4 separate regions of the Homo sapiens genome follow, and regions 1, 2 and 4 are each linked to region 3. Evidence: fine-mapped expression QTL. A gene starts in region 3. Each other region holds a variant in brackets. All regions are shown on one strand. Distances are between the middles of the regions.

Region 1 (8,400 bases), 350 kb before region 3:
ATGGAAGAGGAAGGCATTGAAAATCACCTGGAATCATAGAAAGGATATGACCAAGGACACGGACCGATACCACTGTAGGGTAAAGATCTAAGGCCACAAAGCAGGGGGCCCACCAACCCTTGTCTCCAGCTCTTTCATCTCCACCTTAGAAGCACCGGGAAGTGTTCTATGGGGTAAGGCCCTGCAGCCCTGAGATGTCACCTGCAGCAGGGAACCCTAATGCCACCTTTGTTTGGAATATTGCACCCAAATGGCTGTCTCTCCTGGATTAAGGGAGTGCTGATCTATTGACCTAGCCAGCTCCCTCTGTGACTGTCCACACAGATTCCCTCACATGTGTTTGGAAACCTTGTACTAAAAATCCAAGTTGGGTGCTGTGGCTTATCCCTGTAATCCCAGCACTTTGGGAGGCTGGGGCAGGTGGATCCCTTGAGCTCAGGAATTCCAGACCAGCCTGGGCAACATAGTGAGACCCTGTCTCTACAAAAAAAAAAAAGTTCTTAGCCAGGCGTGGTGGTGTGTGCCTGTAGTCCCAGCTACTCTAGAGGCTGAGGCAGGAGGATCACTTGAGTCTAGGAGTTCAAGGCTGCAGTGAGCCATGATCACACCACTGCAGTCCAGCCTGGGAGACAGATTGAGACCCTGTCTAAAAAAAAAAAAGAATCCAGTGCTTTTAAATGTTAGCCCCCTAGTGCACAGGCTTTGTCTGACTTGTTTATTGCTGTACACTCAGGGCCTAGGACAGTGTTTAATGAAGAGTAAGTGCTTATTAAATGTTTGTTGAATAAATTAAATATGATAACTTAAATATTGGCTTCTAGGAGTCTGCACTGAGTTACACATATATGTGATGAATATATCTACACTTCCGCGGCTGCCTTGTGAATATGCATTATGTGTTTGTACGTAAAATATGTAGAGGACCCTAAAATGAATGTGCATGCGTGTGCGCGCACACACAAGCACGCGCGAACGCACAGAGAGCTTGGGAAAATATCAAAAGGAGAAGCCCACAGCTTTCTCGGTAGTCGATCGCACCCTTGGAGAAGAGGATTCCAATAAAATAGAATTTGGATGGTGTCACAAATAAATTTGCCTTTCTAAAAGCTACCAAATTAAAATTTGAGAGAGGGTTGAGCATGAGGACAGGATGGCAATGAGCAGATATGAATTTGCTTTATTTGTACGGCTCAAAACTCCTCTCTCTACCATTTGCGGGTGAGGAAAGAAGACTGCAGGACCGGAGACAAGATGAGAAGCTCTGAGGCTGCTCCCTTCTCTGCTCCTCAGCCCGAGCTTCTCCAGGAGCCCACTAGATATGGCAGCCCCTTCCCCTTGCACCCCCAGAAGCCCGTGGAATCCAGTTCTTTCTGTGTGTGTCTGGGGTGGGGAGGTTGGTTGCCTGCGTGAAGAGGCAGCCCTTTAGGGCAATGGTGCAGCAACATTACCCAGCTTAGATCTCTATTCATCTGGTCTTCTGGCCTATCAAAGGGTAGTGGCTGACCACCCCCACCTCCCCTCAGAAATAAAGTAACTGCTGTCATATTGTTCCAGCATCTTAAGCCCTGGGGGGTCATCGTGTGTCCCAGTTACTCACAGAGCCCAGTGCCGCCTGCTAAAGACTGTATTTAAGGGTAATATAAACAGTTTGATCTTTAAAGTACCCTGGATGCATAATATCTATACATAGTTCTTGAATTTTTCTTCTAAAAACAATTAGCCAAAAAGCCCTTTTTATATGATATTTGCAACTACACTGACAGTAACAGCAATTAAACCCCGTCTGTTTGCTGAGAAAGGAGCCAACTCTTCATTTCTCCAGAAGCCTGTAAAATGTACAAATTCGGAACTAGAACACTGAGCCTTCAAAGGTAGCCACAAGACCCTTCAAGGTCAGGCCCCAGCCCAGCTTTTATTTCCCCCTCCACCCCACGTGATCCCATCATCCCAACCAGCCCCAGCAAGGCCGAGATATCCCTGGTGTTTTCTGCCCCTGCTAAGCTGTTGCCATGCTTAGGGGCCTTGTCTGGGATGTCTTCCTCTTCCGTGCCCCTCTTCCCCCACCGGTATGCCAAGGCACGGTTCAAATCCCACCGATGTAAGCAGGCTTCCTGGTCTACCTCAGCCATCAGGGCCCTCGTCATCCCTTGAATCCCTGTATCTACCCCCTCAGGAGGTGCTTCCACATGGCCTGAGGATAATTGGTTCTAAGGGTCTCTGCCCCCACTCTGGACTGTGACCTCCTTGAGGGCAAAACTGCACCTAGCTCTCTGCCTGCACATGTGATGAATAAATAAATGAGTGAATGAAGGAAGGAAGGAAGGAAAGAATCATCAAACAGCCCATGCAATGGTTGAAGGATGACAAAAGGAAGTTAACAGGCATATGAAATAAAGACCACAGCTCTGGTGCTGAGACTTAGAGAGGGTTGATGGGGAGGAGCAGGGAGATCTGCTAGCAGGCTATTCAGTGGCCCAGGAGAGGGATGACGGAGCGGCCATGGGGGTCAGCGGGCCATGGGGCCAGAGAAGAGGCATTGGACTCCCCATCCTGGAAGGCCAGGCCCAACACCCTCTCTCTTGCATCAGAAAGAGTGCTACAGAATTACCAAATCAACATGGACTACAGGGCATCTGCCCGTTGCACCTGTCCCCGAAGATGTTGAACTCGGTAAAAATGAAGTGCTGTCTTTGCATTGGAGGGTTAGCAGAGTGGGAGGCGGAGAGGAATTTTTTCTGGAGGAAGGAGAATCATGTCTGTCACAAAAGTGTTTGACAAGGTGAGCATCCATTTCTTAAGAAGACAGTGAAGCCTAGCTCTGGGCCACCCAGAGACTGATTTCCCTTTGGGGCACTGGATCAGCTCGCAAAGGACCCCCATGCTGCTGCAGACGTTGCCCCAGAGCTCTGCAGTGGGCCCAGGTACTTTCCTGTGGCCTAGAGCAGCTTTGAGCTGCATAGGTCTTCAGAGGCTGGGAGGAAGGGAGGAGCCCACAGCCCCACCTCAGGGGGCTTAGGAATAGAGTCACCTCTTAAGTATCAGCGGGGTCTCTCTGAGGGGTGGCAAACGTACCAGCATAAACTGAAGGTTGGACGACCCTAGTTTCAGGCTGGCACCCACCCCCATCTCTGACTAGTCACTGTCTAGACTTCCCTAGGAGCTTGAATTTCTTCGTCTCAAAAAAAGCGAGGTTGGGCCCGACGATCTCTAGGGGTGATTTCCGCTTCTAAAATTCTATAGTTTCAGAATTTCTCCGCTTCCTTGACTCACTGACAGCCTACTCTCCATCCTAATGACTTAAAAATTCCTGTGAACACACTTAGTGTATAACTGTCTTTCTGTTTCATTTTTTAGTTACAATATTCTAGATAATACTCTTCTTGCTTGCCAAGAAAAGAAAAAAAATGACATTAATTAAAGATTTGGTCTGTGTCCTAATCAAAAATTTTGAAAATGAATGTATCATACTGTACATTCTGCAATGTAGCCTGCTTTCTTACTTAGCAATATATCATTAACATTTTCCCATGTCAACACATAATCTTCTAAACCATGATTTTTAGTGCAGAAGTAGTTTACCATATGGATGTACTATAATTTACTCAGCCAATCCTCTACTATTGGACATTAGGTTGTATCT[G/A]CTTTTTTTTTATATTATCACCAACGCTACAATGAACAAAGTTGTGAATACACAACTCTTCATTCACCTCTGTGGTGACTTTCTGAGAATAAATTCTCAGAGGTCAAAGGTTTTGCATATTCAAAGGCTTTTTGGTACATGTTAACTAAAATGCCATCCAGAATTTAGAATTTCTATCAATGTAGAATCCTTGTATCAATTTAGAATTCATAGCATATGAATAACCATCAGGACAGTCATATTTTAGAGTTGAAAAGAGACCTAGCAAGGCTGTGGTCCAGCCTCTCCAGTTTACAGATGAGGAAACCGAGGCCCAGGATGGGACACGTGTAGGTATTTGTCCTGGGTACTCCTCGCAGTATGGGTGAGACTCTGAACACCGCCAGGACCCTGCTTGTGCCCCAGCCTGCCAACCTCGGTCCCCACTGCCATAACTCAGGGCTTCTAGGGCCTTCCCTCCCTGCGTCACCTCTCATGGGCCCTCATAGCCACACGGCTTCCGCCTAAGAGCAGGCTGCACTTGCCATTTCTCCCTCTTCTCTTCTCATTCGTCTTTCCCTGCTCCTTCTTTGTCCCCCTGGCAGCCACTTTCTGATGGAAACATGCAGTTCTTGTCCCAGGGGTTTCTCGGTGATAGTTAGAAGCCCTCTCCCATTTTGAAACCCCTTCATCTTTCAGCTACCTGGATCCCACTGCCACCTGCCCTTTTGGCCAGTCCTTCTCAACATCCTTCCCAGGTTCCCTCCCTCTACCTGGCTTCCTGCCTGCTGCTCCTGGTTCTCCCAGCATCCCCCTTCCCTTCATATGTTCCCAGGATGAGCCCGTGCATCCCTGAAGCCTCCAGCCACACCCACTTTTCCTCTGCCAGAGCTCCAAGCCTGTGGGCCCGTTGCACGCCTCCCCCTGCACGCTCTGTAGGCCCATCCACAACGCGTTATCAACGAAACGTAAACCCTTCCCTTCCCCAGCCCTCACCTCGACCCCTTCATCTGCCCAGATCTTCTTTTAAGGCTGAGCTGAAACATTTCACCCTTCACAGGGCCCTCCTGTGACCCAGCTTCTTTGGGGCAGAACTGAGCCCCCTCTCACCTAGGAAACTCCCACATTCCCCATCAGGGAACTTAGCACCGTCGCACAATTACTCATAGTCGTAGCCGTAGGAGTAGTAGTGGTGGTTTATTTCTCTGAATCCCCAACCAGACTCAAGTACTTGAGAGTAGAGGCCATGTTGAATTGGCCTTACCCCCAACAAGTGTTTGTTGACTGCGTAAGCAGTGGCAAAGAGGAGCAAGTATTAGCCTTAGAGGATAACTCCTCTTTTCTCTTTGCCATCACCAGCCAACTGAGAATCTGTACTAAGTCATTTCTGACTACAAGGAGAGGGTATGGGTGCCATGGGACAAAACTCGCCCATCAAAATGTTGGTATCCCCCTCCCCCGCCTCTGCCAATTTCCAGACCTTATGGAAGGAACGTTCTCAAGGCTAGCTCAGTTTGAGATTTTAAGACTCAGTGTAATTCTTGCCCTCTGACCTCTTCTCCAGAACAAACTCTTTATGCTAACCTGGCTGGTGTATCTAAAGGAAGACCCCAACTCTTCAACTCCACTCATTATATTTCATTCTTTTAGAAAAATACGACCCCTCTCCTCACCTGTGCAAATCCTACCACCCTCCAAGATAGTGTTCCTAGAGGAACCCACCCCTACAGACTCCTCTCCTGCCCAAACATCAGAATCCCCATTAGAAGGGACCAGCCCTTAGCTGGGCACAGTGGCTTACGCCTGTAATCCCAGCACTCTTGGGAAGCCGAGGCAGGAAGATTGCTTGAGCCCAGGAGTTCCAGACCAGCCTGGGCAACACAGAGAGACCCTGTCTCTACAAAAAAAATTTTTTAATAAGCCAGGAATGGTGATACACACCTGTGGTCCCACCTACTCAGGAGGCTGAAGTGGGAGGATCACTTGGGCCTTGGAGGTTGATGCTGCAGTGAGCCGTGATGATACCACTGCACTTCAGCCTGGGTGAAAGAGCAAGACCCTGTCTCAAAAAAAAAAAAAAGCGGTAGGGGGTGCAGCCCTGTTTCCTGCATAGGATTCCCTGGATATTGACAATCCCTCACTCCCTGGCATGGAGCTTTGTATGAAGTGTGCTCTGATGAACAACCTTTGATCACTCAGATGAAGATTTGATGACGTTAGGACTGAGGAGAAAGAGATGGCTTCCTTTTTGCTCCCCCAAGCTGCTGCCCTAGCAACTTTTTTTTAAAGCCACTAATAGACAGGGTTTCAAAATCCAGAGGGGCCAGGCATGGTGGCTCATGCCTGTAATCTCAGCACTTTGGGAGGCCGAGGTGGGAGCATTGCTTGAGGCTAGGAGCTCGAGACCAGCCTGGGCAACATGGCAAGGCCCCCGTCTCTTCAAAAACTAAAAAAAATTGCCGGACATGGTGGCGTGCAACTGTAGTCCCAGCTATTCAGGAGGCTGAGGCCAGAGAATTGCTTGAACCCAGGAGGTCAAGGCTGCAGTGAGCTATGGTCACACCACTGTACTCCAGCCTGGGAAGCAGAGCAAGACCCTGTCTCTTAAAAAACAAACAAACAAACAAACAAAAAAACAGAAATATACCTAGCCTATTACCAGAGGTCCCAACCAAGGAACACAAGCCCCAGAATACATAATGTATTAGAGTGTTCTTTCCTTAGTACCACTAATCCAGAGCCCCTCCAGAACAAACGGTTTAGTGTTTCTATTGCTGGGAGACAAAAAGCCGGATGAAGGGGATAGGAGGAAGGGAAAGACAGCCAGGATGTATTCAGTTTCTACTCCATGCTGGGCACTTTCTAAACATGCACTGTCTTATTTTATTCCCACTATAACACTGCGAAATAAGCACTGACCCTACTTGACGTTCGAGAAAGCTGTGGTTCAAAGAAGTGAATCCACCTATCCAGGGGTACAGAAGGTAGTAAGGAGCAGAGCTGAGATTTTAAACCTGCATTCTTTAGAGTAGCCCCGTTGTCTCCAGGAGGAAGAGCAGCAAAGCCCAGAAAATGCAGCTCCACGTTTGCCTGTCGGTCTGCTCTTTTCCTCCTCTATTCACAGTCATTGACAAGCTTCTCGATGCCAGACTGAGGTGGCCTCTCCGGGGACCTGGAGTGGTCGCTGTTGCTCCTGTTTTGAATGAGGACTCAGGCTCAGGGAGGATCTGTAACTTTCCCAGGCCATGTTGCTAGCAGGTGGCAGAGCCCATCTGACTCCTTCACACCCTGGATCACCCCTGCCTCCCTCTCTGGGCTTGTGTCTCAATCCTCCTCCCTCAGGGAGCAGGAGCAGGATCTGTGGCCAGGGAGCACATGGCGGATCTGTCCCAAGCCAGACCGCCGACCTCAATTTGCCTTTTAGAGCCTTACCCCATTCCAGAGATAGGGCGTCTCCGAGAGGACACATTGGAGGACATCTGGGGTCTCGAAATGGCCGTGGTTCTGTCCTGGGCACTCGGCAGGAAATGCAGAGGGGCACTTGGGCCAGATTCCCATAGGTGGCCCCAGGAGGACAGGAATTTAACTGAGGACACAGCAGCTCTCGATTCCGGTTCTAGTATCCTTGGTTGAAGACAGCTGAGGGCCAACGGCTTTTTTCCTCCAAAATAGAATTGTCAGGGCACCACATGCTGACCTTGCTCCTAGCTTCCCCTCATTTGCGGAAATGCAGAGAGAAGTTGCCGGGCCCCCGTGGGTCTGTGCTGAGCTGCCCTGTCGTCCCACTGCCACGGGAGCAGCATCTAGGCCTGGGAAAAGTGGGGACAGAGTGGGCGGCAAAGTGTTCTAGACACACTGGGATCTGAGGAGCAGGCCTGGACACAGCTCACATGCGCAAACCGTGCACACGTGGCCCGTTTCTGTTCCTTCACGCAAGCAGTGTCCCCAGCACCCGCAAAAGGTGACGCCCAGATGGATCCCAGAGCGTTCCTGACGGTCCCCCCTCCGGCTCGCTGCCTTTCTCCTGATGTCGCTGTTGACAGAGGGTTATGTAACCTCGAAGGAAGGGAGGCCTGGAGTTCTCCCCAAAGCGGCGAGTGAATCAGTTTTTGCTGCCGTCATTTTCTCAGCAGGAATCTGCTTTATGCAGATTGGATTTAGGGGTTTTTCCTGGATGCTTCTGTTTCATTTAACATGCAAGGGCTAATAACTTGTCACAATTCAATAAGGCGGTGGTTACAAACACCCGGGCGGCTGCTTATTTAAATGCAGGTTTGTTAATTAGCTTCTCCTAACAAGGCGTGCGCTAAATCAGGCTCCCGGCTCGCAGCACCCAAGCCTGGCACATCTCCCGGGACGGGAGGTCGGGAGGTTGGCTACAGGGTCACATCCAGTCACTGGCAGCAGGGCCAGAATTCAAGGCTAGGAGGCCTGTCTCAGCTACTCCATTGCCTCAGTTTCCTTCAAATCAAGGCATCAATGACAAATTGTAAAAGCAACTGCAAGATAACCACACTCTGTCCCTTCCCTTCCTTCCTTCTCTGGTTCTCGTTCTTGCCTTTGATTCCTGACCCCATCCCCCACTCCGAGTGTGCTGTGTGTTCTACGCAAGCCCCACCTCTTCCATGAAACCTTCATAGCTTCCTTCAACCCTGACACCCTCTCCACTTACATATCATCATCTACTCAGTTTGGTAGCAGGTTGCAGGGGTGCTGGTGACAGGGACAGAAGAAAACCAACAAAGATGGGGCACCTGCTGTGGGCCAGGGGCTGTCTCCAT
Region 2 (8,400 bases), 100 kb before region 3:
TCAGAAAAGATGTGGACCCGGTGCCAGACAAGGTGGAAGCCATGGTTATAACCACAAACAATTTAGGAAATTGGAGCCCATACCCACAGATGGGCCCTGGGTTCACCCTCCCTCTGCCATCTTTTCTGCCTGGGCAAGGAAAGCTGGGTAATGCTTTAGGAGAAACTTGGGTTCCACTGTTACTATAACAACTAGAATAAATATTGGGGATTCTAGAATGGTACCTCAACAAGTCTTTATGGCTTAGGAAATAATTTTCAATGCAGAGATCAGAGAGAAAAACCCAATAATTAATAAAAAGAAAAATTATGAAATCAACCAATCTAGGGCAAGCTCTTCCTAAACCAATTTAATTGATTGGTCACCCAGATTGGTCAGGATGAAAATTCTTTTTTTTTTTTTTTTTTTTTTTTGAGACGGAGTCTCGCTCTGTCGCCCAGGCCGGACTGCGGACTGCAGTGGCGCAATCTCGGCTCACTGCAACCTCCAACTCCCTGGTTCAAGCAATTCTCCTGCCTCAGCCTCCCCAGTAGCTGGGATTACACGCATGTGCCACCACACCCAGCTAATTTTTGTTATTTTTAGTAGAGATGGGCTTTCACCATGTTGGCCAGGATGGTCTCGATCTCCTGACGTTGTGATCCACCGGCCTCAGCCTCCCAAAGTGCTGGGATTACAGGTGCGAGCCACCGCGCCCAGCTTGGATGAAAATTCTTAAAAGGTTAAACTTTATAGATATGGTACAGTTGAAAATTTTGGAGATCAGCTACCATATTTACATAAAATAGGGCAGGGTAGAGGGAGCAGATTTTAGCTTTACTCATTCTGAGGCTGGAGAGACTCCTGAATAATGACCATGAACAGCAAGTCCAGCTGTGTCTCATGCAGGCATGGCTTATAATATTTTTCCTATAGAGATCAGCTGTGCCTCAAACCGTGTGTTTTTAAAGCACTCAGAGGGAAGAGGATCTAAGGGACAATGCCAAAAGGCAAAAAAGGCCCCGAAATTATCCAATTTTTAAAAATCTTCCCTTGCTCCTTAATGACATTCAATAATAGTCTATTGACAAAACAAATAAGGGTTTCTCTGTTCCTATTTTGAACAATGTCAGGAAATCATCCCTAAGTTATCAGGATGGCAAAGAAAGCTAATCTTAAGAAGGCAAATCTTTGCTATTGAGAGAAACTTGCTTCATTGAATTGTTCATGGAAGAACCAAAAAAGGCAATGAAAGACATAAAAAATACTGATGTTCCTGGAGAGGCTGAGTCTTTTACTCCTAGGCAAGGAGCAGTATCAAGCTCATCAGAGTGTGATAAGCAATTCTTACCTTGCCAATCAATATCCAGTCACAAAAGACCAGCAAATCAGCAATGCCTCTACTTGTAACCAAAGTGTCACCTTGAGAGTTTAAGGAAAACGGAGGCTATTTTTGTTTTATCATTCTATTAAAGAAACACACACACACACACACACACACACACACACACACACACCCCCTTGGCTTATTGTTTTGCTTTTGCTCTAAACATTCAGAACACGGAAATAAAAAAAGGATATATGTTTTGAACTTACATTAGATGAGTTTTCAAATTTGTAAAAGAAATAATCATCTGATCGATTTAAATGTCCTGTGATATGTATGTCACTAAAAGTGAGAAACCTGGTCCATGTGAAGCATCATTTTCAAAATGGCATTTCAGAAAAGTTTACAAAGGAGTCCTGACATGCCTGAGGAATTGTTTTGTTTTTGTTTTCCTAAATGGGAGAAGTTGCAGAAAAAGAAGGTCCCTGTGGGCCTTCCACAAGGAAGGTCCTGTGAAGGAAAACACAATGTAACTGTTTCCAGTATCTTTAGCACACACAGGGGGAAACATTCAATAAAACAGAAGAGACTTTGAAAACACCAAAACTGCAGAACTTTGACAGCAATTAAAATGTCTGTTTAATCATGGCCCTAGACAGGAAAAGTAGTCTTCGAGCAAACCCAGGGCAGGGTCCAGCCATCTTGGAAGTTGTTGTTTACATTAAAACAGCTACAGAACGGAAGGGATAACTTTATCTTTAGAATTCAACCGAATTTTCAAACTTAACCTCCTCTAAGAGTTAGTGCTGCTCTAAAACTTACTCAGGTTTTCTTGAACCAGGACCACCTACCTCTCTACTCTGGCTGATTCCTCCACAGCTCAGAGGGAACCAGTGAAATACTGTATATAATTTTGTGATGGTTCTGTCAAGGAAACTTGCTTTATCATTCTGCTTTTTGAGACAATAGTGAAGCCATTCCTAAATAATCATCCGTAATAAAATATTATTTTTTGCTTATAAGGATTTACAGTAACTATTTCTACTACTGCCTGCTTATGGAGGCCCCTAAGAGTGGTTTCTACCTGTGGATTGTATATATGTAACAGCCTTAATGAAAAGGAGAAAAGGGATAAGGTACTAGCAGCTCTGCAGTCTGTCACATGGAATGACTTTCATCAGTGAAATTTCCAAAGACAGGATCTTTTCTAATCCTGGGATTGGAAAAGAAAGGAGCATAAGGATATCTAGGTGCTTAATACCCGATTTGAGTTCAACAACAATCAGGAAAAGACAGTTACTAGAGACTTTTCCCCCCTTCTTTCACAGGTTTTACTCACAACCCATTCAGAGATCCTTTATCTCCTTCCTATCTTTTTATTAATGGAGCAATCTATGCAGGCAGATTCCATTCCCTAAGAGTGCCTTGATTTCTGCCATAAACAAATCAGAAACTGTTAGAAAAAAAGGTATAGGAAAACAGAGATAGATGGGCTAAGTCTTCATTCTTCTAATGAGAAGTATGGTTTTTTGGGGAAAAAAAAAAACACCACCAAAATTATGTTGTTCTTTGTTTTTCTGGTTTCCTGGAAACTCCCAATATGAAGTATTACTGTCTGAAATACTTGCTTTAGTGCTAGACTGCCGCATCACAAATGACACTAAGGAATGCCATAAATGTGCACGTTCCATGCTCTGATGTAATGTTCCCAGGCATGTACATTCACTGCAGAGCTGACCAATGACTATTATGACACGGCTCCTGCGATGAGGCTAGTTAAAATGGGAGCCTAAGTAGCCCCAAAATTTCCTTCACTAGTTGGTTGTGACTTGAAAATCAAACTAAGGGAAGATAATTCACACACTACATCTGAACACTTGCTTTTCGCATTCCAAAATATGCTAATGAAGGCTGAAATACCATTCAACCTAAAGAGTAACTGATATAGAAGACAGGAAATCCTCACTTATCCAATGTTCTTTAGCAAGACCTTCAATTCACAAGGGGACCATTGAACTCTTGTCAGTTTCTACTACCCCAGCTGGTTTCAGTAATACTGACAGGGAACAACAGAAGGATGATGGGAAGGCACATGCGAGAGCTGATGCCAACAGCCTAGAAGGGCATATATACATCTTGTTGTAGAAGGTGCTGCTGAGGGCATTTATCAAATATTTAGAAAGTGACTTCCTTTACAGAAGTCACCTGGGGTTCAAAAATGAAAGTAAAATAATCTGGCAATTGTGAAAGCTTTCTGAAAATCTTTCTCCTCCAAAGTCCTAAGGAAATTTAAACCAATCATGCCCATGGTCAGATGAACAGATTTTAAGTAAATCTAAGAACATCCCTTATTATTTTTTATTTTGTTTACTAGAACATATTTAAACGAACTGAGAGTCCAGAGAAAGTAGGTTATTATAGAAAACATTTCCCTTCGCCCTTAAAATCACTGGATTTGGGTTATTCACTTTGAAGTTCTACTATGATCCAGTTTCCCATCAAAAGGGAAGCACTTTTAGCCACTGAAATCTAAGAGGACTTTCTTCAATGGCACCCAGCAGAAAAGGAAAAAAATGAAAAGGAAAAAAATCTTCTTGCATTTGAAACGTTATTAGTCTTACATGAAAGACATTACCTTCCAAAAAACAATAATGAAGACTGACTAGTTCAAGTCAGAAACCCAGGTTTGAGGTTTCCAAGGCCCTTTTATTAGGGGAAGTTCCCCTTTATAGCACAAGACTTCACAAATGTGTTGACAACAATCAGATTCATTTCTTAAAATTATGGAGAAAAAAGGGAAAAACAAAACAGATGCACTTTTTATATATATTGAACATAAATTAAAAGAATTTATAAAACAGCCACCTTTTTACAGAATAAATGCAGACTGAATTATAAATGCACCTCCACGTTGAAGTTGTTTTGAGTTGCTTTTCATTTTCCAATAATAAATAAATAGAATTTGTTCTTGAGTTTTAGATCCACCTGAGCCACGGCAGGACTCTAAGTCATGAATGGGCTTTCTTCCCTTGGTCGCTCCTGTGCGCAGCATGTGAGTGTGCTGAGGTTACAGATTTCATTGGCCCACCAGCGTGTATGCTATCCTTTCGGGGTGGCATTCGCTCATTAATTCGGTCCAGACCTCGCGCTTCTTCAAAACTCCGGATC[T/C]TGTGCTGAAGCGAGAACCCTCTGATGGCTACAGAAAAACAGGAAGCAGGTGGAGAGAGCTCAATTAGGCAGCAAAGCAACAGGCTTAAAAAAAGTTTCTTAGCACACAGCAACCTCCTAGAGAAACACACAGAAAGGTGGCTATGGAGCACACGTCTAGTGAAAGTCATGGGCAATGTCTGACTGAATCAGTCTTGGCTGCAGCTACTGCTTCCTTAAAGCCCAAAGGGCAGCTGAAATTGTGAAAGTAATTTTCATAAAAGCTCTATATGCATAATCATGGTAGACATATACCTAACAAAAAGCTAACAAGTACTTACTGGGCCCCAGTACCTTTAAGAAAGAGTGTCTTATGCACCAGAAACATACTCAATGCTAGAACAAAGGCAACACTAGAATAATTGAACAAGTTAAACCCAGGGTAGTTGCTTTTCGCACAAAGGCCACATAGACCACAAAAAAAAGTAACAAAAGAGCTAATCTTTTCGTTTAGGACAGCTTTCTATCTTGCACAACCAGGAGCTGTACATAAGTTAAAAACTTAAAAATAGCTTCTACATATTTTCCTTCCGATTCAACTTTTATAACACCAAGTTAAGGCATTCGCGTTTTGAACCATCTTACCTAATAAAACAATTACAAGTATAATACAAGTTTATCAGTTCCAATGGTTTTCATAGAAACAAAGTTAATTTAACTTGCCTACCTTAGGGCAACCTCAGAAATGAATTGAACTAAATTCCAGTCTACTTCTGCCTCTGCTCTTGAAATCTTTTAGAATCGCTGAAGAGGCTGACCTATTTGGCTCTCTTGAGAATCAAATGGATGTCTCTTGTACATGGAAGGGATACAGAAGTAAACCACTTGACCTCTCATGACCAGTTGCTTAAGCTTCTGCCGTTGCATTAAAGCTGATAGAGCCCAGAAAAAAAACTGTAGCTGTGGTGAAGGTTATTTAAAATTAATGCAAAGATAGGACACAAAGGAAACACCTGCTTCGTTAACATGCCTAGAAACAACTATACCTTTTCTCACTGTTATAGTTCTGGTGATGCAATAATAAAATATTTGAAATGTTGATAAAGCTTCGAAAAACCAGTACACAGACACATGGATCACATCTATCAGAGTAATATGGCCATACCTTCCCGGGCCTCTACCGCTTCTACTGTGGCTGTAAGAGGGCAGGAGCAGTAGCATGCAAAAACGAAGACAGAAAAAGAGTGAGTAAACCAACAGCACTGATGGCAGCACAGCCATCCCAGGGGCCCGTTTTTTAGCCTATCCCCATCCATAATGAAAGTCAACTAGTTAGAGAAGCGAGAAGATTATTGCGAGAGACTCAATTGGGGTGGGAGGAATATGGGGTGGGGGAGAGTTTCTAATATTTTTAACATTTCAGGTGCCATGGAACATTGCTCTTTTCATTTTAGGTAGCCAACTGCTACTTTATATCTTGATATCCACGTATCGAAACAACATGTAGAATCAAATAGTTTGACATCACAACAATCCTTAGTTTGTAAAATATCTCAGGTGATATTAAATGAGCTACTGCTGGGTCCTATTCAAAAAGCTTATTTACAACTACATCTTACTGCTCTCAAGTGACTTATTTGGAGTCCAACTGCCCTATTAATTACTTCATTTAAAAAAAAAAGAGTGGCCTTTGAACAGCAGACTGGCATTTGGAAGGAGAGAAAAATAGGTTCCATGTGAAGGGTTATTTCTTGTCCAGGAGTGGAGTACAAAGCTAACAAAAGCATAGAACTATTGAATTCCTAATGCAAATGTGTGTACCCATCTGCTATAAAAATATAGCAGAGGCTAATGTTTCCAATCCATATGGCTTCCATACAGTGTTCAAGAGAGTTGGCCAGTAACTAAGAAAGCCCTCTTCTTTCTTAGCAATGGAAAAGGAAGCAACTTAAAAATTAGTACCAACAGGTAAACTTCCTTGCATCTCCTTTCTCAGACAGTAAAAACGCTAATATATGAAAAGGTACAGGGTGCCACAAGAAAGATCCTATTAGGAGAACCCTGTCAGTTACTCCAGTACCAATTTGCCAAAAGAAGGCAGTGAAGAATAATGAGCAGTAACAGTTTGCTGCTATTCCCAAGGCTTTATATATCAATATGAGAAGAGAAACTGAAAGAACTACATTAACTACCTAATGGAATGTGAAAAATGGATAACTGAAATCTACTTATGAAGTGCTTTCATTTGTCAACCATAGGCAGGCATGTATTAAATCACTGTCACACCCTCTCTAATCTCCTTAAGTAGAACAAATACCCTTGACAAGAAAGCTACAGTGCCTTCTCACAGCACATCACTGATGTAACTGTTAGGAAGTGGGAGAACAAAGCATTGCTGAAACTCTACACTGAGTGTTGGTCTAATTAGAGCTTAAAAGCTACACGGTAAAATGTGTATGATATTACCTTGTTTGGGGCCCTCCCAGAATTGCTATTCACATTGGGTATAAAGATAGCAGCCTGCAGTAAGGGCCATTATAAGAAACAGTCATATCAAATGACCCGAACTTTTGTTTTCCTTTTTAACATCTTAACTGAAATAGAATTCATATACCACAAAACTCACTTGTTTAAAGTATACAAGTCAATGGTTTTAATATAGTAGAGCTGTGCAACCATCACCACAATCTGTGCTTAGAATATTTTCATTGCCCCAATGAGAAATCCCCCACTTATTAGCACTCACTTCCCATTTCCTTCCCTCACCTCTTCCCCTTAATCCTGGTTGAACACGAATCTACTTTCTCTCTAGATTGGTCTGTTCTGGACATTTCAAATGAGTGGCATCATATAATATGTGGTCTGTAGTGACTGACTTCTTTCACTTAGCATAATGTTTTCAAGGTTCAGTCATGTTGACATGTATACCTGCATTTAATTCCTTTTTATGGCTGAATAGTATTCCATTGCGTTTACCACATTTTGTTTATCCAGTTTATGGACAATTGCTTTTTTCTGCTTTTTGGCTATTATGTTGAATGCCATTTATGAACATTTGTGTACAAGTTTTTGCGAGGACATATTTTCATTTCTTTGTGGGGTATGTAGCTATGACTGGAATTGCTGAGTAATAAGTCAATTCTATGTTTAATCATTTGAAGACCTGTCAGAATGTTTTCCAAAGCAGCTGTACCATTTTACATTTCCACCAGCAGTGTTAAGAAGGTCCCAATTTCTCCACATTCTCATCAACACTTCTTATTAACTGCTGTCTTTTCACAGCCATCCTACTGACTGTGAAGTGGTATCCCATTGTGGTTTTGATTAGCATTTTCTGAATGTCTAATGATGTCAAACATCATTTCATGTGCCATTTGTATGTCTTCATGGGAAAAATGTCAATTCAATTCTTTACCCATTTTTAACTGGGTTGTCTTCTTATTCAGTTGTAAGAGTATATTTTCTAGATACCAATCTCTTAGGAGATATATGATTTGAAAACATTTTCAACCATTCTGTGGGATGTCTTTTCATTTTCTTGATAGTACCATTTGCAGTACAGAGTTTTTAATTTTGATGTAGTCCAATTTATAACTGATCTGTTTTAATCTGATGGTCTTTGTGAATCTTGTCCTGTCCTTGGCTTTCCCCACTATTTTGGCTACTGGGATGCTTAGAGTCAAATTTGTGGCTATTGGCTTTATTTTTATTTACCTTTGTGCTTCAATTTCCAAGCATATTTATTTTACTCCACTATGTTTCATGTATACTGTAACTCACGCCAATCCCTCTTAGATCAAGGTGAGACATACATGAATGTATGTTACATGGCCATATGGGATACTGTTGGTTGAAAGCTCTCCAAGTTAAGTTATATGAACAATAAAAGGTCTTTTTTAGTTAATGCTCCAGTTAGCCAATGAGCTGGTGGAACTGAGACTCCAATG
Region 3 (6,428 bases):
TGCACACGTGACACCTCATTTTCTTCAACTATTTCAAACTCTGGAAAACCCTGAAAAAAGCACCATAAGTCATCATGAAGCCACAAATGCTGTGGTCAAGCTCTTATGCCGAAGTTTTTATATAGGAGAGAAATCCATACATTCTAAGGACCTGAAATTATTTCTATTTCATTTATTTAAGAGCAGTCTTAAAAGTACACAATATTCGGTAATTAATTTTGGTAAAGAACAAATTTGCATCCTGCAGGATATGATGACAGTGTTTATTTAATAATAAGCATGCGTAGCAATAAACCAGCCCCTGCTTTTTTTTTTTTTTTTTTTTTAGAGAGAGTTTCACTCTGTTGCCCAGACTGGAATGCAGTGGCACCATTTTGGCTCACTGCAACCTCCGCCTCCCGGGTTCAAGCAATTCTCGTGCCTCAGACTCCCAAGTAGCTGGGATTACAGTGCCCGCCACCATGCCCAGCTAATTTTTGTATGTTTAGTAGAGATGGAGTTTCGCCATGTTGGCCAGGCTGGTTTCGAACTCCTGACCTCAGTGATCTGCCTATATGGGCCTTCCAAAGTGCTGGGGTTACAGGCGTGAGCCACCATGCCTGCCCCTAGCCCCTGCATTTTAACTTTTTTATTTTATTACATTTTATTTTACAATATTTATTACTATATTTAAGGGTCATTTAAGATTTTTAATCTTCTTTTGATCTTATGGCATGTTATGGTGGAAATTACATGGCACAATGGTGATTTGATTGTGAGATTCCTGAGGGCTGCACTAAGCTTCACTAAGATCCTATTTATTCTGACTTGACCCACAGTTCTGGCTTATCTGGTTTCCCTGCCTACTTCAGCTAAGACGTAGCAGATTAGAAAGCAGTTAAGGGCATATTTTGACAGAAAACAGTACTGGAGAGAGAAACTAAAAGCAAACAAAACACTGAACTGGTATAGCATTGCGAAGTCATTTTAGTACAGGACGAAACTGCTAACAACTTTATACAGCAGAACGCACCGGCCATATTAACAGCACAGTACAGAAATTAATGTACATAATGACCTTGATTCCTCAAAAAAGGTTATGTTAAGTACACTCTGAATCTTAAGAGAGGGCTATATACTTCTTATAGGCTATACACTAATAATATGAAGACACATTTAAATGGTCACAATAATTTAGCTGTTCAGGGGATAATGTCAGTTAGATGAACAATTCAGTTAAACCTCTAACGATAGCATACAAATGCTAAGCAGATAAATCTCAAAAATCCCATTATAATTATGTAGTACAGATAATTAACATTTATGAGGCTGATTTGGGGAGAGAGGGGGGAAACCTAAGTTATACACTAAAATTCTTCCCCCTCCCTGAACATGCAATAAGGCGTTTCACCTTTTAAAAATGTATTCCCGTCACTAGTATTAGTTGCCTTTCTCCTTCTAATACCAAAATGAAAAAGAAGAAAAGTATCTTAATAATTTTCCCCACTGTCACGCTAACCCCTGCATCCAGAGGCCACTAACACAGCTGGTCTAAGTCTATTCCCTTCTTACAAAATAGCGCTTTCAAACCGATTGTTAATCTCAGAGAGAAGGGTTGTGCCTAAGACTTACGGCTGAATAAAAGCAGCACATAAATTAGTGGTTATGTGTAATCCATCTTCTTAGTTTAAAGGGAGAAACAACTATAACCTAAAACTCTACAAGATTTAGAGAGCAAAGAGCCCTTTACATTTTGTTCTTATAACAACAACAGAAATCTAACGCAGGTACACATATGAATCAGAAAACGTCATTCTCCAAGTCTTTATAACCAAAGGGAAAATAAAATACCATTACCCTGTCAAGAGCTCCGTAAACTTATTTTAAACATCATATAATGGATTTATCTGACTTGTTCATACTAAGTTTATTCCAGTAATAGCAGTGACTTGCAATGATCTAGAGAAAGCGGGTCAAAAGGCACATGGTATACGTCCTAAAAAAGGGTGGGGGGCGGACGTCAAGAAAGATCTAATCTTAAATATCTTACTTGGAAGAGTCGACTCCCTGCTCACACCACCCCCGATGGCTTCCCCCGAGTCGTTTCTTAAAGAGAAAAAAAGACAGGGATCCGGGCCCTTCGGGGCGGTGGGAGAAGAAGTCCCCACTGCACCCTGAACCCTTCGGGAGGGAACTTGGCACTGACGGCCAGGCACCTGACCAGGTGCAGCAGAAAACGCCGGGTCCGGGTGGCTGCTCTCGGAGGCTGCCGCCCGGCTCTGTCTACACCCCTCCGAGCCCTCCTAGGGTGGGCGCAGCCCGGCCCCAGCCTCCCTCCGCCCCGAGCCGCCGCCCAGCCGAAGGCCGTTTCCCGCGGGTCCCAGAGGAAGGCCCGGCCCGCCAGGCACCTTTGATGACGCGGTCGGTGGTGGAGAGGTGGAAGCGCCTCCCGGACATGGTCCCCTCGGCCTCCTCCAGGCTCCAGGAGCCCGCCGGACGTGCGCCTACGCCGCGGCCGCCGCCTTCTCCTCGGGCAGCCTTAGCTGCCCGGAGCCGTCAGCCAGCCGTGCCCGGCCCCGGCTCCTCAGCGGTGTCCGAGCACCAGAAGGGCGCGGCCACCGCAGCGCCGGCCTCCGACGCCACTGACAGGACGAGGGCCCACCGGCCGCTCTCTTGGGAGGCGCCAGCGGCTAAGGCGGGGAACACCGCTTCGGCACCGACCGCGACCGCTGCTAAGGGTGGCGACCGGGACGGCCGCGGCTGCTCGCGGCCCGGGCCCTCGTGCACGCAAGCGCGCCCCCGAGCGCCGCTCTCACAACTTCCCAGCGGCCCCGCTGTCCTAGCGGACCCGGCCGGGCCTCCCGCCCCGAGCGCCGCCCTCCCCACCCTTCCGCCTTCCCGCGAGGCAGTAGAGCTCGGCGCACGCGCTGCTCTCGGCTCCTCCGGCTCCGGGTCCCTGCTGCTAACCGCCCATTTTCGCTTCTTCTCAGCCAGCCCTCCCCGCAGCCGGCCCCTTCTCTCCTGCCAGCCCCTACCCGGGCCCGGAACATCTGAAACCCGCCCGCGTGGCCCGCGCGACCCGCGCGGGAGGCCGGCCCGGCCATCTTGCGACCCGGCCCTGCGGCCTCGCAGCGGCTCCGCGCCGCCTCCTGGGACCGCCTCGCCGAGAACCCCTGGCCTCCCAGTCCTCGCCCACAGGCGACCACCCTCCTCACCTCTGGGTCTCCCACCCGCTTTGTCTCAAGGAGTGTGATCAGTCCGGCCGCGCTCCTTCAGTTTTTGTGGGTCATTCAACAAACGCACACATTTAAACCCCCTCGCTTCATCTTTCCCGCTTGTTGAGTGCAGTTAGTACAATGAGAAGGACATTCGTGTCCATCCTAGTTCCAGTCCAGTAGCTAGGGCGGTGGGGGATTGGGGGAGCTCCGTTTCTGAGCAAGGCTCTGCTCCCTCCTCACTTTCCACATCGAAGAGAAGGGAGATCTCTGCTCCTGGGACCCCCGGGCCGGACCTCCTCGGCCACAAGAACTGACCTCTTCCTATGCCCTGTGTGTCACCTGCCCAGCTAGAAGCCCCTTTTTTCTTCCCCCTGACACAGTACCTGCCTCCCCGGCCCAGGCTCACTGTGGAACCCCATGGGCAAGTCCGTAGAAACTTAACAGTCTGTTCATCTCGAGGTTAAAAACTAACCTTTATCTGTCCTTAAAACTGTAAGCCTAGAACAGAAACTGGCTCCAACTGTCCTCTCACTGAGTAACTGGCAAAGTCAAAAGGATTTTGACTTTTAGCAATGCAAATGAAATATTGAAACTGATGTCCAATAAAACATATGCAAGTTACAGGCAAAACCAGTCTTAACAATTACCGCAGTGACCGATAAGTAGTTGTAGCTATGTAAATTTAAATTAATCCCGTTCCTCTAGGGGACTAGCCACATTTCAAGTGTTCAAGAGCTACACGCGGCTACCTTATTGGACATCCAGAAAATTCTACTGGACAGCTGTTAGGTAAAAGATTATAGGATTAAGCGTAAATCTCCAATAATATGGATTTATGTATAGGCGGTCTGGGGATATATAGTGGAATCAGACCCTGAATTATCCCTTGGAATTTTGACCATAGCTCTTTGATGGTAACCGCAGGAGGCAAAAGGACTTTAGGAGCCGACTAGAATTTGGTTTTCGTTTTCATGATCCTTGAGTCTTCCACCCAAGAGAATTGTTCAGATATCCTGGGGAAACTCTTCATTTAAGAAGTAACCAGAACTCCACGCCTATCAAATCATACCCCTGGGTCAGAGGCTAAAATTCATCTGGAAGAACCTCAACAGGATAGCTAAAAATAAAAAGTTTAAGAAAACATTGCGGGCCGGCAAAAAAGAAAAAAAAAAAGACCGGGTGGGGTGGCTCACGCCTGTAATCCCAGCACTTTGGGAGGCCGAGGTGGGTGGATCACGAGGTCAGGAGATCGAGGCCATCCTGGCTAACACGGTGCAACCCCGTCTCTACTAAAAATACAAAAAATTAGCCGGGCGTGGTGGCAGGCGCCTGTAGTCCTAGCTACTTGGAAGACTAAGGCAGGAGAATGGCGTGAACCCGGGAGGCGGAGCTTGCAGTGAGCCGAGATCGCGCCACTGCACCACTCCAGCCTGGGCAATAGAGCGAGACTCCGTCTCAAAAAAAAAATAAAATAAAGAAAGAAAGAAGGAAAGAAAGAAAAAACATTGCGGGCCGGGCAAGGTGGCTCACGCCTGTAATCCCAGCACTTTGGGAGGCCAAGGCAGGCGGATCACCTGAAGTCAGGGGTTTGAAAACAGCCTGGCCAACGTGGTGAAACCCCGTCTCTACTAAAAATACAAAAATTAGCCTAGCGTGGTGGCACATGCCTGTAATCCCAGCTACTCGAGAGGCTGAGGGAGGAGAATCGCTTGAATCCGGGAGGCGGAGGTTCCAGTGAGCCAAGATTACGCCCCGGCACTCCAGCCTGGGTGACAGAGCGAGACTGTCTCCAAAAAGAAAAAAAGAAAAAGAAAACGTTGCAGGCCGGGCACAGTGGCTAATGCCTGTAATCCCAGCACTTTGGAAGGCTGAGGTGGGCGAATCACCTGAGGTCACGAGTTTGAGACCAGCCTGGCCAACGTGGCAAAAACTCATCTCTGCTAAAAATACAAAAATTAGCTGGGCGTGGTGGTGGACGCCTGTAGTCCCAGCTACTCGGGACGCTGAGGCAGGAGAATCGCTCGAACCCGGGAGGCGGAGGTTGCAGAGAGCCAAGATGGTGCCACCGCATTCCAGCCTGGGCACAGAGACAGACTCCATCTATCTCAAACACAAAACCAAAAAACCCCACAAATACTAACTCGTTCAATCCTCACACCAACCCCATTTATATGATTATCCCCATTTTACAGATAAGGAAACTGAGGCACAGAGATGTGAAGAAACTTGCCCAAAGTCACAGAGCTGGTAGGAGGCTTAGTGAACACCATCATCGTCAAGAGACGTGCAGTACCTGAACTTTTTCTATAGCACCACGAACTTTTTCTATAGCACCACGTGGAATATGCGGCATGAGTCCTCAAGCATGGTATACATGAATTTACAGAATCCAGATGTCATTCTGTAGCTTGGCTTTAGCAAAGTAATTGTGAGCAACTTGCAGCCCTGTCCCTTCGTGTCCCCACCCCCACTTTTTTTTTTTTTTTTTTTTGAGACGGAGTCTCGCTCTGTCACCAGGCTGGAGAGCAGTGGCGTGATCTCAGCTCACTGCAAACTCCACCTCCTGGGTTCAAGTGATTCTCCTTCCTCAGCCTCCCAAGTAGCTGGGACTACAGTCGCATGCCACCACACCCAGCTAATTTTTTTGTATTTTTAGTATTTTTAGTAGAGATGGGGTTTCACCATGTTGGCCAGGGTGGTCTCGATTTCCTGACCTCGTGATCTGCCCGCCTCGGCCTTCCCCACCCCTTTCTAAGGAGATTCACTCAGTAGCTCTGCCTTTCTCCAAGTTCCTTGCTGGTCCTCTGTTTCAATAGCTGCTTAGTCTTCCAGCAACAGCCAGTGACACCCAACAGACCTTGATACCATCACTTCCAGCTGTGGGCATGGGTAAGTTCCTTCACTTCTCAGGCCTTGCTTTCCTCTTTTGTAATATGGGGATGATAATATTAATAGGCCCTCCCTGTAGCAGAGGCGGGGATGCCCTGCCCAGATCCCCTTCACCATGAGGGATAACCATCTTCTGGTTGCTGCTGTTTTTGTTTTTGTTTTTGTTTTTGTTCTAAGAGAGAGATGAGGTCTTGCTCTGTTGCCCAGGCTGGAGTGAAGTGGTGCCATCATAGCTCACTGAAGCCTTGAACTGCTGGGCTCAAGTGATCCTCCTGCATCGGCCTCTCAAAGTACTGGGATTATAGGCATGAGCTACCGTACTCTGCCTGTTTCTTGAGGGCT
Region 4 (8,400 bases), 47 kb before region 3:
ATGATAATGAAAGCAATACATGTCCAAATCTGTGGGACTCAGATAAAGCAGCACTTAAAGGGCAATGTATAGTGACAAGTACACTATTTTCTCATTAGATTTGCAAATATGCTTGTATATGTTTAACCTATCTCTGAAAGGTCACATAAGAAACTCCTAAGAGTGAGTGCAAGAGCTGAATGGCTGGCATATGAGATGCTTAATTTCATCAGTAATTAGAGAAACATTAATTAAAACAGTAGAATACTACTTTATACCCATTATATTGGCAAGTATTATAATATGAGATAAAATCATATTCTGGAAGGAGGGATGTGAGGAAATAGGAATTCTTCAGTGCTGCTGGTAGGAATAGAGACTTGCACAGCCATTCTGAAGAGCCATCTGGCAACCAATGCTCAGTTCAAGTATGAATGCATACACCCTTTCTCCTGGCAATCCGATTTTGTTCATAAAACCTAGAGACATTAAATCATGGTAGATTTATATGAGGGTGTTCATCATAGCAGTGTTCATGTTAGAAAGAAACTGGAGGTAAACTAGGTGTCCACCAAGCAAAAGAGAAAACTAAAGTGTCATACATAAATACTGTGAAATTCTATACAGCAGGCAGAAAGCAATCAACTAGAGGCACGTATAGTAGTAACCTGGATATATCTTATCCCATTACTGGATATATACCCAAAGGATTATAAGTCATGCTGCTATAAAGACACATGCACACATATGTTTATTGCGGCACTATTCGCAATAGCAAAGACTTGGAACCAATCCAAATGTCCATCAATGATAGACTGGATTAAGAAAATGTGGCACATATACACCATGGAATACTACATAGCCATAAAAAATAATGAGTTCATGTCCTTTGTAGGGACATGGATGAAGCTGGAAACCATCATTCTCAGCAAACTATCGCAAGGACAAAAAAACCAACCACCGCATGTTCTCACTCATAGGTGGGAATTGAACAATGAGAACACTTGGACACAGGAAGGGGAACATCACACTCTGGGGCCTGTTGTGGGGTGGGGGGAGGGGGGAGGCATAGCATTAGGAGATATACCTAATGTAAATGACGAGTTAATGGGTGCAGCACACCAACATGGCACATGTATACATATGTAACAAACCTGCACGTTGTGCACATGTACACTAGAACTTAAAGTATAATAAAATATATATAAATATAAAAAAAGTGGTAAGTGAAAAAAGTCAACAGTATAAATAGCACTACAACAGTGGTTCTCAAAGTATGGTCACATTCATCTCAAAGTGTGGTAAACAGCATCACCTGGGAACCCGACAGAATACAGATTGCCAGGTTCCACCCCACGCCTGATGAGTCAGAAACAGGGTCAGGGTCCTGCAACCTCTGTTTGCACAAGCTTTCCAGGTAATAATGGTGTATGTTAACATTTCAAGACCACTGGACAGCACCATATCATTTATGTAAAATTAAAATATTTTATCTGTAAAAGCTCTATACATTAAAAAATTAATATATTAGATGTATTGGCTCAGCACGGCAGCTCACGCCTATAATCCCAGCACTTTGGGAGGCCAAGGTGGGTAGATCACGAGGTCAGGAGATCCAGACCACCCTGGCTAACATGGTGAAACCTCGTCTCTACTAAAAATACAAAAAAAAATTGCTGGGCGTGGTAGCATGCGCCTCTAATCCCAGTTACTGGAGAGGCTGAGGCAGGAGAATTGCTTGAACCTGGGAGGCAGAGGTTGCAGTGAGCTGAGATCGTGCCACTGCACTCCAGCCTGGGAGACAGAGCAAGACTCCATCTCAAATTAGTGAATATATATATATTTATTTGTTATGTATGTATATAATATATACTTACTATATATATAATATAAAATATATACTTATATATAATATATACTTATTATATATATAATATATAATATATACTTATATATAATATATAATATATACTTATATATAATATATACTTATATATAATATATACTTATTGTATATTATATGTAATATATACTTATTATATATTATATATTATATACACTATTATATATAATATATATTTGTTATATATATATATGCTGTACCTCTCACTAGAAAATACAGTAAAGGACTTTGCTTGTGCATCTCCATGTTAGATCCCTAGAATCTAACACAGGCACTGTTGACAATCTGAGAATCATTCATTCATATATACATTAGATGTATTCTGAATCATATATTAAATACAGTAGAAGCATGTGTATACTGGGGAGAGGGAGTAAGGAACTCAGAGATCACAGATAAGCACAAAAAGAATAAAACAAAAAAGAGGGACTTTGCAAAGACTGATGAGAAATGTGCCATGACCTGAGGAGCTCGATCAATTCAACTGAGACTTTCCCACCTCCTCAAAAAGGAAAGACTTTGAAATCCTGAATCCAAATGTTTCTCAGTATGCCTAATCTAATTACTGACATCTCTTACCTATATTACTAGATTAAATCCTCACTGGTCTCCCTGCACCTGCTTTTGGGCTCCAAAAGTCAACTGACCTTCTAACAGCCAAAGTAATTGTTTTAAAACATAAATGTGAATACGTCACTCCCCTGCTCAAAAAAAAAAAATTCCTCCAATAACTTCCTAGCACATTCAGAATAAAACCCAAATGCACTGACATGGTTTACTAGGCCTGACATCATCTATCTGCCCCACTCTCTGCACCTCTTCCATCTCTCCCTTACTCATTATTCTGTCTAGCCTCGATAGCCTCACTACTATACATGGACTGCCCTAGACTTGCTTCTGCCTGTAAGCTTTTACACTGGTTGTGCCTCTGCCTGGAATGTAGTTCCCCTGATCTATGCACAGCTTGTTCCCACAGGTCATTCTGTTCAACAATTGCCTCTTCAAAAGAACCTGCCCTGATCACTCCATCTAAGTTAGCTGCTCCTGTCCCGCTTTAGCTCCTTCCTCTGATTTGGTTCTCATGGATGGTAAACAAATACATGATGCTGTCCCTCTCACTAGAAAATACAGTAAAGGACTTTGCTTGTGCATCTCCCTGTTAGATCCCCAGAATCTAACACAGGCACTGTTGACAATCTGAGAATCATTCATTCTTTGTTGTTTAGGTGTCTCCTACACATTGCAGGGTATTTTGTATCCCTGAAGCCTGTTTATCAAATGCCAAAAGAAACTTTCAATCATTGTGACAAACAATTCAAACATCATTGTACGTAATTATGAGTGCATCTAAAGCATAGGTTCTGAAAAATGGAATTGTTGCATTAAAGCATATACACATTTTGAAACAGGCATTGCAAAATAATCATAAAGCTTAAACATGTAGACACATATAAATAACCTTGTGTGGCTTTATTCTTTTGAGGGGTTAAATTTCATTACCAAGATAACAATTTTCACAAAATATTCCAAGGAAAAATTATATTAAATCAATATACAAATTTAGAATGCACTTCTCTTTTCTATACCTACCTTTCCCAACCAAGAACACAATATATCTTTTGATTTATCTGGGTATACATTTGTGCCTTCTAACTCACCTTTTTGAGGTAACGAGATATATAAAGGCACAATCCACCCATAGTATAATGTCATTTGGTGATGTGCTTCTTGGCCTCTAATTTCAAGTTTTATTTCCTTATTTTATACATCAGGATGCAACTGTACAATTGTCTTGTATAATTCAATTACAAGGTCATGATTATCAAGAGATCTGTTCAACCACTCAATTACTTTTTACTTCTGTGTGAACAGAATTTTTACTCTGCCTCCAGAATCATTTCTATGTGTCAATACCTGTTCATCAATTGGTCATCTAATAACATTTATATCACCTGCTCATCTGATAACATTTTTCTCTTTGGCAGCTTCTGTGCTTTTAATACAGTATATCTTTGCTGAAAATGTTCCCTTTAATCTTTTCTTTTCTCACAAAATCAATTAAAGAAACTAAAATTTAGCTTCTTCTCTCACAGAGGAAGAGGAAGCACTTTGTTTTTATTTTTTTTTTCTCTTTAGACAGAGTCTCACTCAGTCACCTAGGCCAGAATGCAGTGGCATAATCTAGGCTCACTGCAACCTCTGCCACCAGGGTTCACACAATTCTCCTGCCTCAGCCTCCTGAGTGGCTGGGACTACAAGCACACGCCACCA[C/T]GCCTGGTTAATTTGTTGTATTTTTAGTAGAGACAGGGTTTTACCATGTCATCCAGGCTGGTCTCGAACTCCTGACCTCAGGTGACCCACCCTCCTTGGCCTCCCAAAGTGCTAGGATTACCGGTGTGAGCCAGGGCGCCCAGCCAGCATTTTGTAATAGGTACAAATGAAGAGGGAACACCAAAAGTCTCAAAGATAAATAAAACTTTACTATTTTGTTTTATCAGCGGCAGAAGTCTTAAAAATGTTCTACTCTTTGATCAGTTACTTCATGTGTGAGAATCTGATCTAAGTATCTGAAATGCCATCACAGATATATTCAAAAAGATGTTAACTTTAGCAATGTGCAGAGTGGAAATAATTGGAAGACAACTTTGTACCATTTAAATACAAGTGATATCAAATCCAATTTGCTGTTGTGTAAGATATTTAAATACCTCATAAAACACAAAGTCTGGGCTGGGCGCGGTGGCTCATGCCTGTAATCCCAGCACTTTGGGTGGCTGAGGCAGGCAGATCTCCTGAGGTCAGGAGTTTGAGACTAGCCTGGCCAACATGGTGAAACCCCATCTCTACTAAAAATACAAAAATTAGCCAGGCGTGGTGGTGGGTGCCTGTAATCCCAGCTACTCGGGAGGGTGAGGCAGGAGGATCACTTAAACCTGGGAGGCAGAGGCTGCAGTGAGCCGAGATGGTGCCACTGTACTCCAGCCTGGGCAACAGAGTGAGACTCCGTCCCAAAAAAAAAAAAAAACAAAACAAAAAACACATCAAGTCTGGAGATGAGATGTCCAGGTTTGGTGTACTAGTTCAACATCTTCACCAAGAAACCAAGCCCTCTGTACCTCTGTGATCAGCGATTCACAGGTCTGCTTTTCCTCCTTAGTCATGTCACCTCCTCATAGTCACAGCATGGCTGCTACAGTACACACATCCACATATGAAGTGAAATGGTAGAATGGGGGTCCAAAAGCTTCAACCTTGCAATAGTCTTTTCATCAAGAAAGAGTGTTTCCAAAAGCAAACAAACAAACAAAAACCCAGCAGAGTTCCCTTTATATATTACTGGTTAAAAGAAAATCCAGTGTTTACCCCTAGACCAATCATTAGTGACAGGAAATTGATTGGCTTGAGTAGTTCAGACCACCCAGAATTCATTCCCTGGGGCTGGGATAAGGGCCTTCCTTCCCTGAGATCAAAGCTTCTCCCTGCAACCCCAATCCCATCTATCTGAATAAAATAGAGATATTGTTTGTAAGGAAGACAGAGGGAAAATGTATGCAATAGCATGACCTGCTATAAACCTATTTTTCCAACAGTAGAGGAATGGTGAAATAAATTAAGGTATTTATATCATTAACTACTGTGAAAGTTGATCATATGAACTGGGTTATTCCTGTCATACCCAACTAAAACAGAGTCAAGAGGGCGGGGGGGAAGCACTCAGGACATATAACATTGACCCAAAAATGTAATTCTCTGCAAGCATGTCTGCCGAAACTGCCTGCTATTACTGGAAACCAGTTTTATCTAATGGCTACTGAAATGATCTGCTGAAATTCTAAGGCTAATTTTACCCACTGCCATCACTCACCAATCAAAACTGGCAAGCTCTCCAGAACCTTACTAGTGCCAATGAACTTTCTCAAAGAGCAACACATAACATTTCGCTTTTTCATAAAACCTCTAACCTTCTCTTTGTTCTTCGGACATACCATTCTGTCTGCATGCATGCTCTAAATTGCAATTCTTTCTTCACAAATAAAACATCTTAATTTCAGAGATTCATCTCTGTGTTTCATTTGACTTTGACATACTTGGTCAAGTATGAGTCTAAGGCTGACTCATCTCAGAGAAGATCAGCAGCCATTGGAACTATAGTACAAGGTAGCCACACTGGGGACCTCTGAAAGTCACCCCCTCCTCTAACGGCTTCTGCAAGTTGCCTCTTTTTCCCTTAGTGAGTCATTCTTGGACTGAACTCCCGATTTTGGTTGAGTTCTGTTTTATCTGGGATTTGGATGGGATGGTGTCTTTCCCCTTCCCGTCTGATCTGGCTGAGGGATCTCCTATTAAGGAAGACTCTTTTCCTCCTTGTAGACCCTGGCTGTGGGGTCTCAGGGAAGGGATTTTTCCCTTTGGGTTGAGGCCTTGGGATCTCTCTTTTTTCTTTCAGTTGGAGAAGGCTTCTTATCGTCCTTCTTGGTAAGTGGGTACTTTATTTTCCCATCTGTGCTTGCGTTTATTTGGCCTTTGCAAATTCAGTGCTTATATTTAATTGGTTTTTGTGTATTTGGGATTAAACCAGAGCACCCACAATAAAATGGGCTCTCAAAATTCAAAGGCATGCCAAGATATTTTCTGGGATTCCAGCCGGTAACATGTTCAAACATCGTAAGGATCATTCAAACAGTCTGTTGTTCCTTAAACTAAAAGACCACAGTTAGAAAATAATATACTCCAAATAAGATATGCGTATCTCATTGATATTTTGAGGCTAAAAAAAAGGATTCAGGACTCAAAGAATGACTCACTACAAAACACTGCCTCAAAGCTAGCTGAATCACTTTCCTCTCTAGAGCTTTCCCCTCCCGCTCTGCCTCCTCTTATCTTTTTCTAAACTCTTTCTTCAAAACTCTTCAACTATTCTGGCATACTGACCATTTAAGTAAAACACTTAAAACCAGCAGATATTAAAGAAAATCATTTTGACCTTCATGCTCTTTCCTTTGCAAAAATGAAATTCCCATGTAAAGATAGCCTGCCCACAGTAAAAGGAATGGCAACACTTTTATCTTCAAGGATAAAGAATTGAGACCAATAAAATACTGAACAGACCTTGTTAGAAGATAATTCAGTCATATTTCCACAATTAACTATTCTGTGTCGAATCCAGTTTATTGGTAACTGACTCAAACTACTTTACTCAAAATTTAGTTCACAACCCTTATAATATTGCCTGTTTTAAAAAAGAACATTAAGTTTGGCCTTATTCCATTTTGTCAGAAAGATAATCTGGATCCTACTGTTTTTTATAAATTGGTGAGTGTTTTACTATTTCATGACCAAAACTCTAAAACAAAAGCCATAAGAATTTATTTATAAGTATGTATATCTGTGTAGATATGCTTATATTATATATATATACTATGTTGTATGCTGTGTCTACATAATAAAATCTCATATAGTCAGCCAGAAATCCCTAAAAAAATTTATTCTGATTAGTTTAAGTAAACAAGTGCTCATATAAAATATGTAGTAATTAACCCAAATGTTTTTTCAGTTCTTGTGACTTAAGTAAATCTTTGATAAATTAATTGTTTTTAAAATTGTTGATACAAGCTGGCTGTGGTAGCACATGCCTGTAATCCTAGCACTTTGGGAGGCTGAGGTTGGAGGGTATCCTGAGGCCAGAAGTTCAAGGCCAGCCTGAACAACACAGTGAGACCCAACTCTAAAAAAATTAAAAAAAAAAAAATTAGCCAAGTGTGGTAGCACACACCTGTAGTCCTAGCTAATTGGGGTGGCTGAGGCAGGAGGACTGCTTGAGCCCAGGAGTTCAGGGTTATAGTGAGCTATGATTGCACCACTGCACTCCAGTCTGGGTGACAGAGCAAGACTCTGTCTCTTAAAAAAATTTTTTTTAATTACAAGATAGGCATTAAAATGTGTCCTTTATTGAGAAATAGAATAATTTTGTATGACAAAGAATCTTATGTGGCAAATTTTCATCCTAAAATAAAATGGTTATTTAAGAAAGGAAATACAGGACAAAGCAGAAAGTCCAAGCATGTCATTAATGGTCTGAGTGAAATTGTAATAGGGTTTGTGAAAACGGAATTTATAAATGGAATTTTGTATGTGATCAAGCTGGCTATAATTAAAATAAAATGACATATGGGACTGGGCGCAGTGGCTCACACCTATAATCCCAGCACTTTGGGAGGCCCAGGCAGGCAGATCACAAGGTCAGGAGATCGTGACCATCCTGGCTAACACTGTGAAACACAGTCTCTACTAAAAATACAAAAAATTAGCCGGGCGTAGCGGCACATGCCTGTAGTCCCAGCTACTCAGGAGGCTGAGGCAGGAGAATGGCGTGAACCCTGGAGGCGGAGCCTGCAGTGAGTCGAGATTGCGCCACTGCACTCCAGCCTGGGCAACACAGCGAGACTCCGTGTCAAAATAAATAAATAAATAAAAATTGAAAAATAAAAAAATAAAATGACATGTGGTCTTCCCAAAGA

Evidence for each region. PIP is the estimated chance that this variant, and not a neighbour inherited with it, causes the effect.
Region 1: its variant is the best candidate, but not a certain one, in a credible set for the expression of PPP3CC in amygdala (GTEx, PIP 0.87).
Region 2: its variant is the best candidate, but not a certain one, in a credible set for the expression of PPP3CC in whole blood (TOPMed, PIP 0.53).
Region 4: its variant is the best candidate, but not a certain one, in a credible set for the expression of PPP3CC in whole blood (TOPMed, PIP 0.71).

The regions. Positions count from the first base shown.
Region 1 is chr8:22,784,124-22,792,523 of GRCh38, reverse strand. The region is part of intron 4 of PEBP4 (phosphatidylethanolamine binding protein 4); the gene reads left to right. Among named protein-coding and RNA genes, the nearest start is that of PEBP4-AS1, 90 kb to the left of the region's middle. RefSeq lists enhancers at 6,853-7,538, 8,226-8,400. The variant G/A (reference allele first, on the strand shown) is at 3,641.
Region 2 is chr8:22,536,717-22,545,116 of GRCh38, reverse strand. It overlaps PPP3CC (protein phosphatase 3 catalytic subunit gamma), which reads right to left. Exons shown (of 14, transcript NM_005605.5): 13 at 5,619-5,648; 14 at 3,992-4,502. The coding sequence ends at 4,315. All of the region lies in intron 1 of LOC124901905 (a long non-coding RNA gene), which reads left to right. It also overlaps a transcript of SORBS3 not described here. Among named protein-coding and RNA genes, the nearest start is that of SORBS3, 11 kb to the left of the region's middle. The variant T/C (reference allele first, on the strand shown) is at 4,475.
Region 3 is chr8:22,437,418-22,443,845 of GRCh38, reverse strand. It overlaps PPP3CC (protein phosphatase 3 catalytic subunit gamma), which reads right to left and starts at 2,768. Exons shown (of 14, transcript NM_005605.5): 1 at 2,388-2,768. The coding sequence starts at 2,436. RefSeq lists silencers at 2,246-2,905, 2,996-3,185.
Region 4 is chr8:22,483,240-22,491,639 of GRCh38, reverse strand. The region is part of intron 3 of PPP3CC (protein phosphatase 3 catalytic subunit gamma); the gene reads right to left. The region is part of intron 1 of LOC124901905 (a long non-coding RNA gene); the gene reads left to right. Among named protein-coding and RNA genes, the nearest start is that of PPP3CC, 46 kb to the right of the region's middle. The variant C/T (reference allele first, on the strand shown) is at 4,154.